Linked DNA regions of Homo sapiens: region 2 is linked to region 1. Evidence: fine-mapped expression QTL. A gene starts in region 1. The other region holds a variant in brackets. All regions are shown on one strand. Distances are from middle to middle.

Region 1 (9,800 bases):
TAGGACGCACCCGGCATCCTTTGCATGGAGTCAAGAGAGGATACAATGTAATAGGAGAGACCCTTGAAGAAGAAGCTGCTTCCTTCCCTCATGCCCAGTGCCAACCTCAGGTCAGTCTCCATCTGGACATCTGCAGAGCATGAGCTCCAAGTGCAGAAATCGTGTCTGGGCTTTGTCCCTTCCCGCCGTTCACTATCCCCTCCCCCCGCCCCAACCTGAAGGCTGAGCACAGAGGACCACCAGGGAGGAGGCCCGGACGTTGAGCACCCAGGGTTAGCAGCCGGCAGACTGACACAGGAATCCCAGCCCTGTCATGTGCTGGCCGTGTGACGCTGGCTGTCACCTAGCCCAGGCTGAGAGCCTGGTTTCCTCCTCTCACAAGGTGCAGCACCACATCCGGAGGGCTGCGGAGGGGTTCGGGGAGGAAATGCGTGGCCGGCTTGGGCACCAGGTCTGGCACTGAGTGGTGGGACTGGGCTGGTGACACTCAGTAAGACAGTGGTGGATTGACTTAGAAGGGGCCTTTCATCGTTTACTTTCTATCCAAGTAGAACACAGGGCTGGGGAATGCTGCCCCCACCCCAGCCATTCCTGAGCCCCTAAAGCCCAGGAGCCCCTCACAGCCACCGGGAGAGAAAAGCTGCCAGCCTCCCGCTGACAGCCCGTCTTCTGTTCCACCAGGATCTCTCAGCATTTGATCCTGCATTCTGAGGTGGCAGCACCAGGGCTGGCCCTATCAGAATCTGACATTTCGAAAGCTGGTGTCTGGGTCTGCCCAGGTTCTCATCAGCTCCAGCCAGCTGTCCCTCCAGCTGCACCTGGAAGCGGGGCCGAGGCTGCCCGCTAGGTGCTGGAGTTTAACACACTCCTCTTTTATTTTCCAAGGAACTTCCCATCACACAGGGCTCCTCACGCCAGGAAACTCGGCTGTTGGGGTGGGAAGGGGAGAAAGGGAGGTGGAAGGGGGACAGGAGGCAGGAGGGGGAGATGGATGGGAAGAGGGAAGAGGGTCTGAGGATGCCTGAACTTCAACCCACTGGTGCTCATCCAGCCTCCCGGGAAAACAGCCCTGCAGAGCCCCATGCAGGAGGAAATGGATTTTAACTGGATTCACAGAGAGCAGGTCAGACCTCCATGAGAATTCCTGATGGTACAGGATCAACTCAGCCCTCCCTCCTCACCTTACTGTCCAGCCACCTGTGGGTCCCTGTGCCCCGAACACCCTCCCTGGGCCTCACTGTCCCATTCCCTGCCCGGAAGTCCTCCTAGCAAAGCTGGCCCTGAGCCTCCCCACACGGCACACCTGTGCCCTCCTCAGCTCCCTTCAGGCTGGTGCTGTTGCACCTGTGCGGTTGGAGGGTCTTCCTCGGGGGAGGGGGCCTGAGGCCTGCAGGGCCTCCCCAATCCCCTCTCCTGCGCCAGATCCTGAATGAGGGGACGGGGACGGTTGAGTCCTGTCTCACCAGCACGTGGCCACACTTCAGACCACTGACTTATCTGTGGACCACCCATCGTTAACGCCCTCTGAATTAACTCAGCTGTTTTGTGTGGCGCCTACTGAGCAATGACACCTGTGAGATCAATGGCTGTGCCAGTCATTCTTGCTCAGGGGAACATTAGAGTCACAGGATGGTTTTCTGTGGTGGGGCACCCTTACCTGCTGCAGGATGCTGGCCTGTGCCACCCCAGCTAGACTGGTGATGCAACGTGGAGCAGGGTCCTTACTCCATGTCTCCCCACCTGTCACTGGGGACCACGGCATGCTCCTACATACACAGAGCAAGCACGTAATGAGTGGCTTGTGGCTGCAGCAGAAACCTCTCCAGCTGTCCCTATGGCCCTCCCAGTGCCCTCAGCACACCCAGTTCCTACACGTTCCTCCAGAATAGCCCCTGGTTACTCTCAAAGCCCTTCACAGGCATGATCTTCCGGGGTCCTCAAGCACACCAGTGAGATGGACAGGCAAATGAAGAAACTGAGGCAGGCAGTCCAAGTGGCCCAGGGTTTCCCAGAAGCCCCAGCTCATTCCTCCAAATCCTTGGGCTCGCTGGTCTAAAGCCTGGTGATTACCAGGCAGGTGGGCTGTTCAGACCTGTGCACAGTAAAGAGCTGCTTATAGTGGAGGTGCTGGATACATGTGCCCCAGCCTGGAAAACAAGCCATGCCAGTGAACGTCCAGGTCGACTTAGGCCTGGCACAACTGTCGCCTTCTCAGACCTCACCCAAGTGCCCTCCACTTTGGGCAGGATACCAAGGAATGAATGGCAGGGCCTGCATTCCTGGACCTGGGCACTACGTATATTTTTAGCCTCTGCCTTCCTGGGCATTTGCAGGGTGGCTAATGTTCTCAGGGAGCCACCAGCTGCACACCCACGGGCTGGGCAGGCACTCGGAGGTCTCTGGGAACTGCACCCTCCCTGCCTTCAGTCCGGGGGCTCAGAGGCCAGCTCCTTTTCAAGGCAGAATCAGCTCCTGCTAGTGAAGCATGCACCCCACCCCCAACACAGCCAGAAGCCTGTGGCTCAGAAACTAGGAGGCATGAAGTACAGGATTTGTGACCTTGGATTTCCTTACTTGGAAAATGGGGTGGGGTGGGGGGACAGAAGGACTTTGACTCCACATGGGATCACCAGGCCAGCTCACTCAGGAGACCTGGTTGGCACCTCCTCCTGACAGGTGCACCCTGTATATCCAAGTGGGGAAGGATGTGCTGTGTTGAGAAGCTGAGAGTCTGGGTCGCGCTTCCCAGGGCCAGATGCCCCAGTCGCTGGAGACCTCTCCTCCCTGAGCTGGGCTGACTCCATGGCTTTGCTGTCTCTGTTCTCTTCCTGCATATGATGTTCCAGGAGCCAAGAAGCAATTCTAGAATGTACAGGTCAATCTTGGCAGATGAAACTGAATTTTCCCTCTTCTCTTCTGCTTCCTGTGTCCCCTTCCTTAAACTCATCACTGTTCTCTTACTGGCCATTGCCGGGCTCTGGTGGGAGCAGGTTGGCTTCACCTTTGTGAAGAGACAAGAGACAGTGTGATGCGGCCCCAAGCCTGTGGAGGATGCCACCAGGCCAGACTGCAACTTCTCTGCGTGACTCCCCCGTGCTGGGCCTCTGTTTCCCCTTCTGTCAAATGGGGAGTCACAGCGTCTACCCTGCAGGGCAGGTAAGATCTTCTTATTATAGTCAGAAACACATTCTAGGTCCTTACCAAGTCCACACTTACACAAACAGGTGAATTAAATATTTCACAAAATAATACTTACTTTCACCATGCGAGATACTATTATTTTCTTTTTTTCCTTTAGAAATAGGGTCTTGCTGCCACCCCTGCGTGCAGTAGTCCAATCACAGCTCATTGCAGCCTCCAACTCCTGGGCTCAAGTGATCCTCCCGCCTCTGCCTCCACCTCCCCAGGAGCTGGAACTACAAGTATGTGCCCCCACACTCGCCCAATTTTTTTTAAAGTTTTTTTTTTTTTTGTAGAGATGGGGTCTCCATATGTCGCCCAGGCTGATCTCAAACTCCTGGCCTCCAGTGATCTTCCCGCTTCGGCCTCCCAGAGTGCTGAGATTACAGGCATGAGCCACCCACCACGCCATCTGATATCTTCTAGCTTATTCTATTTCATTTTTATTATTATTTTTCTTGAGACGGGGTCTAGCTCTGTCGCCCAGGCTGGAATGCAGTGGTGAGATCTCTGCTGACTGCAATCTTCACGTCTCAGGCTCAAGCGATTCTCCTGCCTCAGACTCCCGAGTAGCTGGGGATTACACGTGTCTGTCACCACGCCCGGCTAGTTTTTTTGTATTTTTAGAGTAGAGACAGGGTTTCACCATTTTGCCCAGGCTGGTCTTGAACTCCTCACCTCAAGTGATCCGCCCGCCTCCGCCTCCCAAAGTGTTGGGATTACAGGCGTGAGCCACCGCGCCCAGCCTATTGCATTTTTATAGTCACCACCCACTACTTTTTTTTTCCAGGACCCAATATTGGTCCGTGATCTGATGATGTTCACGGTCAAGACGGAAGCAAAAAAAGCACACACCGCGCGCCCTCGGTCACTAATCACGCGGAGTATACGCGAGGAGGGCCCGCAGCTAAGCGACGGCGGGCGGCCGAGCTTCCTCCACGGCCGGGGAGGTGGGCAAGGCCTCCGGGCCGCAGCCCCGGGTACGAGCGGAGGCTCCGAGGCCCCCGGTAGCCAGTCAGAATTTATTTTAAGGGAAATGGAAAGCTGCGGCAGGCTTTGGGAGGAGGGGCAGGATTAAAAGAGAAAGTGTGCTCAGCATGTTATATTTAGAGGCTGCCACGCCGGAAGCGCCGCCTTCCCGGGAGCTGCCGCCGCGCCCGCCCCCCGCCGGCACCTGGGCACTGGGGCGGGAGTCCCGGGGCTGCCCGGGAACACCCGGCGCCCAGGGCCTCCGCCACTCCCCGGTCCCCCATGAGGGTGAGGGCTATAGGCGCATCTGGCCCAAGATAGGGGAGTCGTCCGGACCCCACTTCTGTAGGAGGGGAAACTGAGGCCAAGGGGGCAAAGCCCCCGTGTTCGCGGCGCCCAGGGTCCGGGGCGGCGCCGGCACGCGCGCGGGCGGGGCCTGGCGCTCCTCCCCGGTCCCGCCCACTGAGCGTGCAAACCGCAGCCGCCCGCCCACGCGCACGCGCGCTCCTCCCGGGCCGCTTCCCACCCCTCCCCCCGCCCGCTCAGTCTCGTGCTCCCAGCTCCGCGAGGGGCCCGCCGGGAGCCGGCCGAGGGTGGGGCGGATCGCCGGGGAGACCCGCCCCCGGCCAGCGGCGCCTTGCTGCGCAGGAACGACGCGAGGGCCCGCCCCCCAGCTGGCGGCCCGGCCATATTTAAAGGACGGCGGGCGCGGCGAGCCAATGGGCGGCGAGCGTGAAGGGGCGGTGCGTGGCGGTGCGTGGCGGCGCGAGGCCCCGGATGTGGCTGCGGCGGCCCCTCCTCCCCCGCGCTCCTCTCAGAGCCCCAGTCGCGCGCCCCTTCTTGGTTCGCTCGGTGCCCGCGCAGGCCCCTCGGGCGGTGGCGAGGAGGCGCCCAGGCGGAGGCGGCGGCGGGCGGAGGAGCGCAGGAGCGGGCGGCCAGGCCACCGCGCGGCGGCGGAGCGGGCCGCGGCCCGGCGCTCCTTCCCCACCGCGGCCCGACGCACCCCGGCCGCCGCCATGAGCGGCTCCTCAGGCACCCCGTATCTGGGCAGCAAGATCAGCCTCATCTCCAAGGCGCAGATCCGCTACGAGGGCATTCTCTACACCATCGACACCGACAACTCCACCGTGGCGCTCGCCAAAGGTAGCGGCCGCCGCCCGCCCGAGCCCGCTGACCCCCGTCCGCCAACAGCCCCGGCCTGCGGTGCCCTCCCCGCCCCGGGGCGCCCCGGAGCCTGGCGCCCAGACCCCGCCCAGAACCCACCCAGGGCACACCCGGCCCGAGATCCCCTGCCCGCGCCTTCACCCCGGACGCCCCCGAGGCGCCCCCTTCCCGCGCGCCACCCTCCCCCAGCGTAGCCGGCCGCACAATGGTCTCCCTGGGCTCCCAGGGCGGCGGGATTGTGCGCGGGCGCCCGGCGGTGTTTGGTGAGGGGCGGGCCCGGCCCCCGCGGTGCCGCCCCCTCGGCCGCCCAGCCCACCTCTGCAGGTGCCAGCTCCGAGGAGCAGGGCGGCTCCCGTCAGCGGGCCTCCTCCCCGCCAGCCTGGGGGGATCCCTGCGGGGGAGCCTCGAGGTCGGGTGGCGGGGCCAGTGTCCCGGCGTCTCCCGAAGGCTGGGGGTGGGGTCACAACACGCGAATCCTGCAAGCCTTTCTGGAACTTATTAGACAGCTGGGGCCTTGATCCTGAACAAATACCGCGTCCTAATGCGGCCTCCTGCCAAGGCAGAAGCATCCGTTGGCAGCCAGATGCCCCGGTTTAAACGGTTCTCCTGCTCTATCCTGACCTTCCCACTGTGGGGCTTACCTTTTGGTGACAGCCGCCTGTGGGTGCTCGTAACCGGCTGTGGCCGCTGGAGGACTTACAGGAGGGGGGCTCTTTAGAGTCAGAATCTCTGAGGTTGTTGAGGCAGCGGGTGGTCCAGAGTTTCTTTGTCTTCATCACCCAGAGAAGACGGGGAGTGCACTTCCCCTGCCTCTCAGAGAAAAGTGCCCGTGGAGCCACGTCTGCCTAAGCCCGTGTGTGTGCTGGATCTGGCGCTAGGCTCCCAGGGGTTCTTGAAGTGTCTAGACGCGTCTGAAACGCTGCTTAGGTCACAGGGAACTTCATGTGTAGAAGAACGCACTCATTCCAAACAGGGAGTGTCTCCTTTTGAAGCCCGTCTCCTGCGTGGCTTCAGGAGCTTGTTGAGTATGCCAGGGCTATGCACTCACTTGCAGCCATGGAACCTCACTACACTTATTACAGGAGAGCCCAGTTAGAGAAGCTGAGGCCCAGAGTAGGCCCAGGAGTTAGCAGGAGTTGTGTCTTACCAGTTAGAGGCTGCTGTCCCACCCACCTCTGCCCCTAGAGGCTTGCTAGAAAGAGACTTGGGCGCTCCTGGAAGCCTGCTGGTTAGGGGTTAGTAGACTCAATTCCTTATAGATGCGGAAGCCGGGGTCAGAGGTCCATAATCCTGGGACCCTGTCTCCCTTTGTTTTCTGTTACAGCTGTTCCAAGGTTTGTTATGGATAGAAGGGTAAGGGCAACACTCGTCTAGATTCCTTTGTGAGAAAACTGCCTCCTCAGGCGCAATGTGCGGTGAGGCTTTGGGCATAAAGCAGCCGGCTGGCTGTTGGATCTACAGAGTCAAACGTGAACAGGGAGGCCTTACGAAGCAAGCCTTGTTTTGCTGAGAGCTCTGTACGTTGGTGCCTTCGCACATCAGACTGTCAGTCTGTGAAATTGTTCCTTGTCATCTTTGTGATCTAGAGCTGTCTGTTGTCTGGAGCTTCACCAATTGGTGCATTATCAGCACTGTCCATTGAAAATCGGGGCATTAAGTAGTTGTTGAAATGTGGACCTGGGGTGCTGTGTTGTGGCTCTGAGCAAGTGTCGCCGTCTTTTGGAAGGCTTGGGAGCAGTGGTGTCAGGGTTGATTGAACTGGCTGAGGACAACAATAACGCTTCTCTTTCTCCACTCATAAGTGAGGTCCTTTGGCACTGAAGACCGTCCCACAGATAGGCCTGCGCCCCCCAGAGAGGAGATTTATGAGTACATCATTTTCCGAGGAAGTGACATCAAGGATATCACTGTGTGTGAACCTCCGAAAGCTCAGCACACACTCCCGCAGGATCCCGCCATTGTTCAGGTAAGTGTGCCACTGTCCCTCTGTGCATGCTGTAGGAGATGCTGGTTTCCATTTGGAGCTTGGTGGCATGTTTGGTCAGAACGCTCAATGTGAGGAATAACCTTTTTTTTTTTTTCTTTGAGGCAGCGTCTCGCTGTGTCACCAGGCTGGAGGTCAGTGGCGTGATCTCAGCTCATTGCAACTTTGGCTTCCCAGGTTCAAGCAATTCTCCTGCCTCAGCCTCCCGAGTAGCTGGGACTACAGGGACGCACCACCATGCCCAGCTAATTTTTGTAATTTTAGTAGAGACGGGGTTTCACCATGTTGGCCAGGATGGTCTCAATCTCTTGACCTTGTGATGCACCCGCCTTGGCCTCCCAAAGTGCTAGGATTACAGGCGTGAGCCACCACACCCAGCCTGAGGAATAACCTTTTAATGAAAAGTGGCTTAACTTTTGTCCAGGCTGTTGCTGCTCTCACAGAAGGTGTTGATTCTTGTAGCACACACAGTAGGTGGTGTGTGCTGTGTCACGTGGCTCTTAAGGAAGGCGACCTGGGGAGTTGGGTGTGCATGTGCGCGTGTGTAGTGTAGTGTGGTATGAGTGGATGCTCCTGGACCTGTGATGTTTCGGGCATAGCGTTTGCCCTTAGTTTCTGGTTGGAGAAGTCTGAGCCCTGAGCAGCTGCTGTGAGTGGCGTGACCTACCTGCAGGGACTGCAGGGCTTGCCCTCGGGTTACGCCCAGTCGTTACATGCTGCTGTTATACAACACCAGATTTGCAAGTCTGATGCCATGTGCCTGCTTATTGGGTTATGGCTTATTTTGCCCATGCTCCCCCAGGGAGCCCAGATTAATATTTTCTTCACTTCTAAATTTAAATATTCACTAGCTCCTCTGGGGTTCAGACTGCATTAGGTTCTGTGCTGAGCACCCATCCTGGAAGGTGGGATCACACAGGGCCGGCTTTGGGAGCAGTGGGAAGCCATCCGATGGCTTTGAGTTAGGAGAAATTTGGGTTAGAATTACATGGACAAGACACCTGTAATCCCAGCACTTTGGGAGGCCGAGGTGGGCAGATCACCTGAGGTCAGGAGTTCAAGACCAGCTTGGCCAACATAGCAAAACCGCGTCTCTACCAAAAATACAAAAATTAGCTGGGTGTGGTGGTGGGCATCTGTAATCTCAGCTACTCGGGAGGCTGAGGCTGGGAGAATCGCTTGAACCTGGGAGGCAGAGGTTGCAGTGAGCTGAGATCACGCCATTGCACTCCAGCCCAGGCGACAGAGCAATACTCTTTCAAAAAACAAAAAACAAAACAAAACAAAAAAAGGAATTACATGGACAGGTGAAACTGGAACTGAAATGCTGTGGAAAAGGCAGCTCTCACCATACTGGAAACTTGCACCCCAAGGGCTCCTCCAGCATCTCAAGGGTGCAGGCTGATGGGACGGTGCTTGTTTCCCAGCTGAACAAGCGCCCTGATGAAGGCGTGCGGGGTGATGGGATGGCCTTCGCCGTTCTCACCCGATGTCTCGTTGTTCAGTCTTCCCTGGGTTCTGCCTCCGCCTCGCCCTTCCAGCCGCACGTGCCTTACAGCCCTTTCCGAGGGATGGCGCCCTACGGCCCGCTGGCGGCCAGCTCCCTGCTCAGCCAGCAGTATGCCGCCTCCCTGGGTCTAGGTGAGTGACCTGTTTCTGTCTGGTAAACTACCCTTGCGTGTAACTGTCACTGAGTGGAGCGATGGAGCCTGAGGGTGGGGATATGCATTCCTGTCATGCTCAGCTTGTAGACTGTTTTGTTGCACACTTAGTAAATTACCCAGTGCAACTTCCGCTTGTGAGAGCATTTAGTAACTACTCAACTGAAAGTAAAAGAGGCAGCAGCCTGAGTGTTGGAACAGAAGAATCAAATCAAAATTCATTCGAAGAGTCAGGGCGGATCTAGGTGGAAGTCCTGGGCCAGGCATAGTGGCTCACTCCTGTAATCCCAGCACTTTAGGAGGCCAAGGCGGGTGGATCACAAGGTCAGGAGTTCGAGACCAGCCTGGCCAACATGGGGAAATCCTGTCTCTACTAGAAATACAAAAATTAGCTGGGTGTGGTGGGACACACCTGTAATCCCAGCTACTTGGGGGGTTGAGGCATGAGAATTGCTTAAACCTGGGAGGCAGAGGTTGCAGTGAACTGAGATTGCACCACTGCACTCTAGCCTGAGCGGCACAGTGAGACTCTGTCTCAAAAAATAAATAGGTGGAAGTCCTGGTATATCTGCTTCAAAGAAGAAATAGCTGATATATATGTAGTATTACAGATGAAGTCTAGCTGTTTGCACATTTATAAGCCTGTAAATATAGACGTGAAATACAAACCCACCCATCATGTCCCTTATTCTACTGTAAGTGCCTCGCTCAAAAATGGTTTCAACCAAGATTGAAAAACCCCAGAGTATGATTCTATTCTCCATATGTAGAGAAAGATCCTGCCTTGTCCTTAACCTGGACCTAGCTTTGCAGATGGGCTCAGAGTGTAGAATTGGCAGGTG
Region 2 (9,800 bases), 21 kb after region 1:
AATGTTTAATCATTTTCTTGCTCTCATAGGACTAGGTTAACTTAAACTGACTCATTCACTGATACAGGGCCTACAGCAGGAAGCCCAGGACCTCCCACCCCTCAAAGCCTTTTTCTGGCAAGACTGTCCAAAGCCCCTTTGTCACGAACTCACCTTCCAGGCATGGTATGTGCCCGAGGGGTCAGTCTGATAGAGCCTAGGAGTGCCATCAAAGTCGAAACCCACGATGAGGGCAGAGATGCCAAACGGCCTGCGCCCATTGCTCTGCGTATAACGCTAGCAAGAAAAGAAACAGGTCAGTGCCATCCAATTAAGAAACTGCATGTGAGGAAAGAACCGTACTTAGTGAAGATACGAACATTTTAAACCATGCCTGAGCCCCTTCTCAGGTTATCAGCAGTTCAAATGATACATTAGCCAATAGCTTTCAACATCCTTTTCTGCATTTTCACTCCTAGAAAAACTCACCTAGGACCAGAATTGTGAACTCAGGTTACTGGAAATTACTTTGACAGGTAGACACACATTCTGCTTACATACTAATGGCGTGTCCTCATAGGGTGGCTTCCAGCCCCCTTCAACTGCTTTGTGACTGGTCACTCAGGATGGCAAGACAAAAGCTATCATTTCCCTCCAGACACAGGAATTTGGAATATCCCATGCCAGGAACTGAGAACAGAACAATGTTACTGAAATTGGTGAGCTAGGTCAAGTTACACTTGTGCAAGTCAAGATTAGGATCACGCCCCAGAATAAATCAGTTTTCTGATTCACCTGAAGTGACATGGCAGGACCCTCCATGGCGGAGCCGTGACTGCCCTGCTGCCAGAGGTGAGCATGCAAGCGGGCAGGCACCCACCTGCTTCAGACTGGCGATGTAGCGGGTGATGTACTCCACAGTGACCGGGTCCTCCACAGTCAGCCGGTGGCTCTGGCACTCCACCCGGGCCCTGTTGATGACTATCCTTGCATCGGCGGTGAGGCCTGCAAGGAAAGCAGAGAGGCTTCTGCTAGAGAGACAGCACAAACTACAGGGTGGGGACAGACACGATGACCCAGCATTTAACCTTCCACAGACCCCCCAAACCGGCAGCAAGGCTATTCTAACTGACTGGCAGCGGAACCTATCAGCCCCTGGGAACTTCCAGGAAATTGGGTACAGATGCTTCTTGATGTGCAGTGGGGTGGTATCCCGCTAAACTCATCGTAAGTCAAAAATACCTGGCTGAAAATGCATTTACTACCCCATAAACCCATTGTAAATAAAAAATTGTAGGCTGCCGTGCAGAATCTGGATTTTTAAAAACACAGATCAACAGGGACTGTCTGCATATGAAGAATTGTGTACTTCAGACCATACTTAAATACAGTACCTGAGTCCTCTTGGGAATCTTAGAAATTGAGTTAATCCCTAATTTCATTACATGAATTGAGATCTTCCTAGATTGCATCTGCTGAGAGGAGAAATGAGCAAGACCAAAACAGCGCTGAGAACATGGCGAGGCATGGCCTGCATCCACCAGTGTGGTCCTTTTTACTGCTGGGGATGGCAGGACGTGGTTCTGTCCTCTCCATGCCACAGATGCAGTTAGCTCTAGAAAGTCCAGCCTTTCTCTAGATTGTAACTGATTGATACAGAAAAATAACAGTGGAGGTCAAATTGCGCAGCAGCCAGAAGTGTTTTCATCCATTTAGCCATTTGTTTCACCTGCTATGGCAGAGAGAGGCCACCAAAGAAACTAGCCAACTTAAAAGTCCAAATCCAATTCTTTTAAATGATTTTCATTTACTCAGTTTATATGGCTCACAATAGCCCACACACCCAAGTTAATCTCCAAAGCCCTATTCTTCGCTGAGACTCTAGAGAGTAAGACAGCGCTCCCCACCGACTCATACCTGCAAAGGCCATGCAGACGTTGTCATCCAAAGCACAGATCTTCCGCACTGTTCTTTCATCCTGCAGTTTGGCCACTGACTTCTTCTCCACACCAAGAACAACAATGTCTCTTCCTCGAACACCAACCTTTAATTAAGATCCACAAACCACGTAAGAAAGTGATATGAGTGCTGGGTGCAGTGGCTCATGCCTGTTAATTCCAGCACTTTGGGAGGCTGAGGTGGGTGGATGACTTAAATTCAAGAGTTCAAGACCAGCCGGACAACATGGGAAAACCCTGTCTCTACAAAAAGTACAAAAATTAGCCAGGTGTGGTGGCTGAAGCCTGTAGTCCCAGCTACTGTGGGGGCTGGTGGGAGGATCGCTAGAGCCTGGAAGGTGGAGGCTGCAGTGAGCCATGACGGCTGGGAGACAGAGACAGCAAGACCCTGTCCCCTCACCCCACCCTATCCTCCCAAAAAAGTGATACATGGTTCTACTGCCAGGCAGCGAGCAGTAGGAGCAGATCTGAACCTGGGTCCTGGGGGGTACGTACTCCGGGTAGCAGCTCCCACTGGAAGGTGCGTTCACCCACACCCCTTTCTCCTCTACTTGTCTGTCACTGTGGCTGGCACCACATCCTGCAAACCCAGGGGTATTCATCTACTGCTGGTAGAGCTAGCCCAGGCGTGCTCACCTAGGTGCCCAACCTGGGCCTTTCAAATACTGAGATGTAGTTTTAGTTACAACATAGCTAGTAAGTAACCATTATATAATCGGCATGTGTTTCCTTTCAACCCAATGAATCAGTCCCATGCAAAGCCTGGAAGCCTGAGACTTTCACTCAAGTCTGGTGTTCTGAAGGCAGTGTTTCTGTAGTTGTGAAATTATATTGAGCCACAATGCACTGTTTCCTGCACTGTGACATACTCATGTGACAGCCATGAGAAGGGGCCTGATTTGCCGTCAGTGGACAAGGTGTCAAGTGTTATCCCAAACTGTTTATGGCTGATGCTGGAGAAGGATATGGCTGTTATTAAAAGCATGAACAATCACTGACAGTCAACCCGAGTCAAGCCAGAAACAAAGGGAACCATCATTGGGATAAACAGCGCCTCCTGGTTTAGAGCAGGGCTTCTCCAGCTCAGCACTGTGAGCACCTGGGCAGGGGGATCTCCCTGTGCCTGCCGCCCTGAGCACGGGTGGGATATTGAGCAGCGTCCCTGGCCTCTACCCTCCAAATGCCAAGAGCACCTCTGCAAGGTCTTACCACTGGAAAAGTCTCCACACACTGCCAGTGGCTCCGTGTGGGCCCAAAACCATCCCTGGCTGAGAAGTATTGATCTGAAGTGTTTGGGTTTTCTGGGAGCTTTCTCAGGTACTGACTCACTTGACCTTCGACTGACTCGAGGCCCAGAGAAGCTATATGGGTTCGTTAAAGCCAGCGGCGGCCAGCTGGCGGGGGTGGCAGTATTGGGGTGGGTACAGGGGTCAGCCGACTCCTAGTCCTCTTTAAGCTGAGTTAGATCACCTGATGAATACTGGGCCTTCATTTCAAAACAAAGATTCAGAAAATGAAAACAAATCAAAATTTACAGAACCGTGTGTGCTGCTTTCTCTGCCTGCTCAAACCTCTGAATACCAGATGATAAAAGAATAACGATCTCACAGACTGACCAATTAAACTGACACGTCTTGATGGTACGAATTTAAGTTTCAAACAATGTCACTAAGGTCAATGTACACGAGCCCTCGTCAAAACGAAACGGCCGCGTCCAAACCAGTCCTGACCCGGGCGGCTGCAGCCCGGCCCCGGGAAGGCTCCTCCCGGCAGAGTGCGGAGACCTGGGAGGCGCCCGCCACCGGCCAGGCCAGCGAGCCGCTTTGTTCTCGAAGCCCACCTGGGCCTAGAGAATAAGTGTTGCCCCGGAGCGGGTGGGGGTCCCCATAAGGGGGGTTTGAGTAGTTCGCTCCCCAGCCACCCGGCTGCGTGAACAGCCCCCCAGCGAGCGCACGGCCTACCCCCCGCGCTCCGCGGCCCAGAGCGGCCCTCGCCCGGCCTCTGCTCGCCGGGGCGGCGGCGCGACCCACGCGCCCGGCCGGGGCCAGGGGTGCTCAAGATGGCGTCGTCACGGCCCCCGTGCCCGGGGCCCCACGCGAGGCCGGGCCCCAAGCGAGGCGCTGAGTGGGGAGAACGAGCGCTCGCGGCTCACGCCAAACGCCGCCTCTGCAGGCACTCGTGGAGACCGGCAGCGGGGCCCGCGCTCAGCTACAGCCCTGACCGCCCGCGCCGCTGCCCCGCGCACGCCCGCGGGCGCCCACAGCGCCGCGCCCGGCCCCGGCCCTCTCTGGGCTCCCCAGCCCCACTTCCGCCCGCGTCCCCGGCCCCGCGCAGGCCCCGCCGCCTCACCGCGGTCGAGCCCTTCTTGACGGCCTCCTGCGCGTACTCCACTTGGAAGAGGTGGCCGTCGGGCGAGAAGACGGTGATGGCGCGGTCGTAGCTCATGCCGGCGGGCGGCGGCCGGGCTCCTTCCGCCGCGACTCTCAAAAGCGCACACTCACGGCCCGCGCGCACCCGCGACTCCCGGCGCCACTACGCCCGCGCCCCACCCTCGGCGCCGTGTCCTGCGCTGCCGGCGACGGGCGGCGTCAGGCGGCGACGGGCAGCGTCAGGCGGCGTCGGGCGGACGTGATGGCGCGCGCCGGGGCGGGGTCAGGCCGAACCACCGGTGGCCGGGGGTGGGAGGCGGTGCTCCGGCGAGGGCCGGGCGCTGGGTGCGAGGGGGTCGCCGGGGGCCACCGTTCGGCACTGGGCCGCAGACCGTTCTGCAGGGCGGAGCGGCGGCGCCGCGGGCCCGGAGGCGCGGCGACGGCGACGGGGCGGACGAGCCCACGACGCGGCGCCCCCCGCGCTCCCGCCCCCTTCCCCCCCTCCGCGACTGCGGATAATGAGCGCCTCGGGCCGCCCAGCGCAGCCGGAGTATCCACCTCGATGACCACGGGCTGAGCCCCGCGCCGCCACCATGTCCGTGGCCTTCGCGTCTGCCCGGCCAAGAGGCAAAGGGGAGGTTACGCAGCAAACCATCCAGAAGGTGGGCCGGGCCGGAGCGGCGGCGCTGGGCGGCGGGTCTGCGGGCGGGCGCGCGCGGGGACGGGGCGCGGGCAGCTGGCGGGCGCGGGGCGCGAACAAAGCCGGGGCGCAGCCGGGCGGCCGCGAGCCCCGACGGCGGCCCCGTGCCCTTCCCCGCGTCCCACGCCTGCGCGCCGGCGGGCACCCGGCCGTGTGGGGGGCGGTCCCCGGAGAGCCTGCGCCAACTTTGTTGGGGCGCGCGGGTCCCTCGGGCCGGGGCACTGGGCGGTGGGGGCCGGGCGGACGCTGGAGGCTGCCGGCCCCCGAGCGCGCTGTCCCCCGAGTCCGCGGCGCGCGCTGGGAACTGTCCTGGGCTATGCCGGGCGCACGGGGACCCCTCGGGGCCGGAGCCGCGGCGAGGGCT[T/C]GTCGCGCTCCGCAGCCAGCTTCGGTGGCGACGGCGGGCGGTACTCGTTTTCTGCGCTCATTTTGGTTAGTGGTGAGGGGCCCGGGTCGGCCTCCGGGCGCACTTGCGACCGCGGGGACTGTGGCCGGGGCTGCCCCTCTTGCTCCTGGAGCGAGGCGCGAACGATGGAGGCACGGAAGGACGCGTCCCGATCCCCATTTGCGGGGCATCGTTACGCAGCCCGGCCCCGTAGGGAGCGCACCGCCCCCTCCGTATCCTCGCGGCTACGCCGGGTTTCAGCGTGACACCCTCGCCAGCCGCCTCGCCTAACAAACTTGACGGATTTGCTCCACAACCTTTCTTCTAGCTCCGTAAGTTCGGCCTTGTGGTTTTCAAGAGACAGCGTTTATGTGGGTTTGGGACACCGTTATCCAAAGCCCTAAGTTTTGAAATTGAGACTTTGTATTTTCTGCTGTTTTTTCTGTAGAAGACAGATTCGGAAGAAAATCAGCATTAGCCATACCCGTTTCAGTTGTCACAACATCTGTTGGAATGACATTGGTTTTTTTTCCTAAACTCTGACTCCGTCTTCACCCTGGTGGGATTGCAGGGATAAACAGTGGTATTCCTAGGTTCCCAGGAGCCGCTTGTCTCCCTAAGGGGGTTCACCTTGACCTTGACTGAGGCTGTTATTCCTTGATGACGTGCCAGTCTCCTGTGGAAGTTGTCCTAAATCTATCGCCTATTTTGAGACTACCTTTGCTGTTGCTAGTTTTAGAAATTTGATGGTCTTAACAAATGAGAACCTTGGCCAACTCTGAACAGGAGAGATTGAGAATAGCAGAAATACAGATTTACAAGTGTGGCATTTTAATTTACTTAGTAAACACTTATGTGGCGCTTACCGTATCCCAGACACTGTTCTAGGGGTTTTATAAATCTTGATTCATCCAATTCTTCATAGAAGCTACTGGCATCCCGTTTAATAGCTAAAGAGGCTGCGGCCTAGGGAGGCCGTGCCTTGCTGGTAAGTGGACACTGAGGCCTAGGGGGGCTAAATGCCTTGCTGGTAAGTGGCACAGCCAGGTGTCGATCCCATACGGTGGCTCCAGGGTCTGCTCTGTTGGTGCCCCTTGATCTGGGAACATTTGGCCAGGCGGAGGTCAAGCTCTAGGCTCAGAGGCAAATGTTGGAACCCAGAGCATCTCCTGGCACTCTGGTTTTTTGGAGCTTAACAGTCATTGTTCCTGAAGCTACCTTTGGCTGCAACGTTTATCCCATTATTTGCACTTCGCACACAGTTCCATTGAAGCTCCCCAAATTCTCCAGGTAAAAGTGTGTATTGAGGTGCTGCCCCGAACATCAGATCAGAAAGGAAGAAATGCACCTGTGGACCGTGGGTCCCTGGGCAGAAACTCAGCCTGCTGACCATTGGAAATAGGCCTTCAGTTTAGGCTGCTGACTTGGCTTGGTAGGGCCAGCAGTCTGCGTATTGGGCTTGGTGTTTTGACGGTGAATATATGTACCCAGGGATCTTTTACTGGGAGGTGTGAGAAGGCTGAGAAAGGTGTGAGAGGTGTATGTTCTATGCCTCAGACGTGTGCTGTGTCCACAGTGTGTGCTGGTAGTGTCATGCCGAGAGCTTTAAGAGAAGCCAGGGACCCCTCTGAAGCCTGCGTGGTAGTGAAGGAGAAGGAAGTCTACAACTTGTCCTTACAGCATTCTGCGTGGTAGCGAAGGAGAAAGAGGTCTACAACTTGTCCTTACAGCATTCTGCGTGGTAGTGAAGGAGAAGGAGGTCTACAACTTGTCCTTACAGCATTCTGCTTGGTAGTGAAGGAGAAAGAGGTCTACACCTTGTCCTTACAGCATTCTGTGTGGGTGGAGATCTTCCAGGCCAACTTCTACTCAACCTTCAAAGCCTCACTCACGTGTTCCGCGTCTCATGCTCCGTCGGCAGTCATGTGGCCCTTGTAGCACTTGCTTGAGCTCCTGAGTTTGGCATGTGACTGATTATTCTTTGCTGATCCCCAGCCTCTCATAGTGTCTGAGCACAGTTAGTGCTGAGCACGTGCTGGATCATCTGTGACGCTGGTCCCATCAGTGGAAGCGTTTTGAGATAAGCAGATGCGTTCGTGTCCTGTGACTTCCTTGACACATTCCCACAACCCAGGTGGCTTCAAACAACAGAAATCTATTCCCTCACAGTTCTGGAGACCAGAAGTCCCAAGTCCAGGGGTCAGTTACCTGCTCTTCTCCTGGCTTCTGATGACTGCGGGCAGCCCTTGGTGTTCTCTGGCTTGTAGGTGCATCCAGCGTGTCTCTGCTTTGATCATTTTTTTTTTTTTTTTTTTTTGAGATGGAGTTTCGCTCTTGTTGCCCAGGCTAGAGTGCAGTGGCGCGATCTCGGGCTCACAACCTCCGCGCCCCCGCCCACGTTCAAGGTTCAAGCGATTCTCCTGCCTCAGCCTCCTGAGTAGCTGGGATTATAGGCGCGTGCCACCACGCCCGGCTAATTTTGTATTTTTAGTAGAGACGGAGTTTCTCTGTGTTGGCCAGGCTGGTCTTGAACTCCCGACCCCAAGTGATCTGCCCCCTCCCCCCCTTAGCCTCCCAAAGTGCTGGGATTACAGGCATGAGCCACCATGCCTGGCCTCAATTTCCCACTTTTTATAAGGACTCTAGTCACTGGTTTTAGGGCCTACCTTAATCCAGCATGACCCCGTCTTTATTTCATTTTCAAATACCTCATTTCCAGTACCTCCCATGCGCAGGCACCAGGGGTCTGGGTACAGTTTAGCCCACGAGAGTGCGTTTGTGGTGAGGGCTATCCCAGAGAAAGAGAACCATGGGGCAGGGGCAGGGAGTCACAGAGGGTCCCGAGCCTGGCCTGCATGGAGCAGGTATTGGGGGACCTAAAGTGGAAGGGCAGGGGGTGCTGGGCTGATGTGGGGAGGGTAGCTGGTGGTGACCAGGCAGCAGTGTGTGGGTGAGACAGTCAGAACTGCTCTGTGGCAAGCACCACAGAGGACATGACTGTGCTGGGGAACCCTGCGGTGGGGCTGGGCCATGTCCCCACGGTGGCCCTGGGCCTGGCTGGGTGTTCTCTAGCCACCAGCTGGGGACTGTAGTGTTCTGTTGTCCAGTGCGTGCTCCTTACGCTGCTGTTGGGGCTGGGCCTGCAGTGGTCACCTCGGACCATGTGGCCAGGCTTGAAGGGGACCCCTGAGTTGCCTCTTTGCTGCTTGGCATGCAGTAATTGCTCAATAAATGTGTTACTGTTTCTGTTTGTATTGGTTTTCTCATTGGTTTCCTTGGCCGGATAATAGCAGTGGTGTCTGCCTGTCTGCTGGGTGTCTGGATCCCCAGCACCTGTTGCGGGGCAGGGTTGGGGAAAGGCTCTGAGGGAATGGGATGGAGCTGAGAGGAGGTGGGCCCCTGGGGCCGCCTGCTGGGTGGGTTTGGTGTGGGAAGACAAGACCTTCGTGGGGTGGGTTAGTGCCGTGCCCAGGGTCCGAGAGCCAGGGAGTTGTTGAAGCTGGACCAGCCCTACCCCATGTCCTTGGTACCCAGGTGCGGGGGTGGGGCATGGGCAAGGGGCGCACTTCTGGGTGGGGATGGGCTGCGGAGGATGGGGTGCACACCCAGTAGGCAGTGGGCACCCTGTGTGCTCCCTCAGAAGTGGAACTTGCTGTCTGAAGGAACGCAAGCTAATTTGGCTAGGAGTGTTTGTAAGGTTAAAGCTGTCCAGTGACTGAATGGCTTGGGGATGCCGAGCCTCCCTTGCATGTGGCTGATTGACAGCGTTCCTCCTGCGATCAGAGGCTCCCCCCACCCGAGAAGGGGAGCATGGGGGCCTGTCTTTACATCCGCAGGGATAGGGGGGTTGGGTCCCCTCATTCCGGAGCCTGGGCTCAGCCCCGGGGAGGGACCCCGCAGCCACCGGCCTTGCTCGGCCTCCTTGCTGTCTTAGGTCAGGTGAGGGAGGCTCGGCCTCCTTGCTGTCTTAGGTCAGGTGAGGGAGGCTTGGCCTCCTTGCTGTCTTAGGTGAGGGAGGCTTGGCCTCCTTGCTCTCTTCGGTCAGGTGAGGGAGGCTCGGCCTCCTTGCTGTCTTAGGTCAGGTGAGGGAGGCTCGGCCTCCTTGCTGTCTTAGGTCAGGTGAGGGAGGCTTGGCCTCCTTGCTGTCTTAGGTGAGGGAGGCTTGGCCTCCTTGCTCTCTTCGGTCAGGTGAGGGAGGCTCGGCCTCCTTGCTGTCTTCGGTCAGGTGAGGGAGGCTCGGCCTCCTTGCTGTCTTAGGTGAGGGAGGCTCAGCCTCCTTGCTGTCTTCGGTCAGGTGAGGGAGGCTCGGCCTCCTTGCTGTCTTAGGTCAGGTGAGGGAGGCGCTCTGCAAGGCCCTTGAACCCAAGCGCCACGGGGGAGGTGGGCAGGAGAAAGGCATTGTCCTGGAGGGA

Direction of the effects. Alleles are on the strand shown, and positions count from the first base shown. SD is a standard deviation of normalised expression in the study named.
For the expression in breast of the gene that starts at base 4,974 in region 1, allele T in region 2 goes with a higher level than allele C (small effect, 0.22 SD a copy in GTEx).

Evidence for each region.
Region 2: its variant is fine-mapped to the expression of LSM14B in breast (GTEx, PIP 0.94).

What each region holds. Positions count from the first base shown.
Region 1 is chr20:62,117,502-62,127,301 of GRCh38, forward strand. It overlaps LSM14B (LSM family member 14B), which reads left to right and starts at 4,974. Exons shown (of 9, transcript NM_144703.3): 1 at 4,974-5,292; 2 at 7,116-7,279; 3 at 8,803-8,938. The coding sequence starts at 5,166. LOC105372706 (a long non-coding RNA gene) reads right to left here and starts at 6,183. Exons shown (of 3, transcript XR_936963.2): 1 at 5,955-6,183. RefSeq lists silencers at 4,033-5,122, 5,283-5,822 and enhancers at 4,486-5,173, 5,174-5,862, 5,863-6,550.
Region 2 is chr20:62,138,922-62,148,721 of GRCh38, forward strand. PSMA7 (proteasome 20S subunit alpha 7) reads right to left here and starts at 4,473. Exons shown (of 7, transcript NM_002792.4): 1 at 4,287-4,473; 2 at 1,897-2,023; 3 at 860-984; 4 at 154-276. The coding sequence starts at 4,382. It overlaps SS18L1 (SS18L1 subunit of BAF chromatin remodeling complex), which reads left to right and starts at 4,848. Exons shown (of 11, transcript NM_198935.3): 1 at 4,848-4,968. The coding sequence starts at 4,900. RefSeq lists silencers at 3,675-4,314, 4,355-5,064, 5,185-5,244, 5,275-5,324. The variant T/C (reference allele first, on the strand shown) is at 5,371.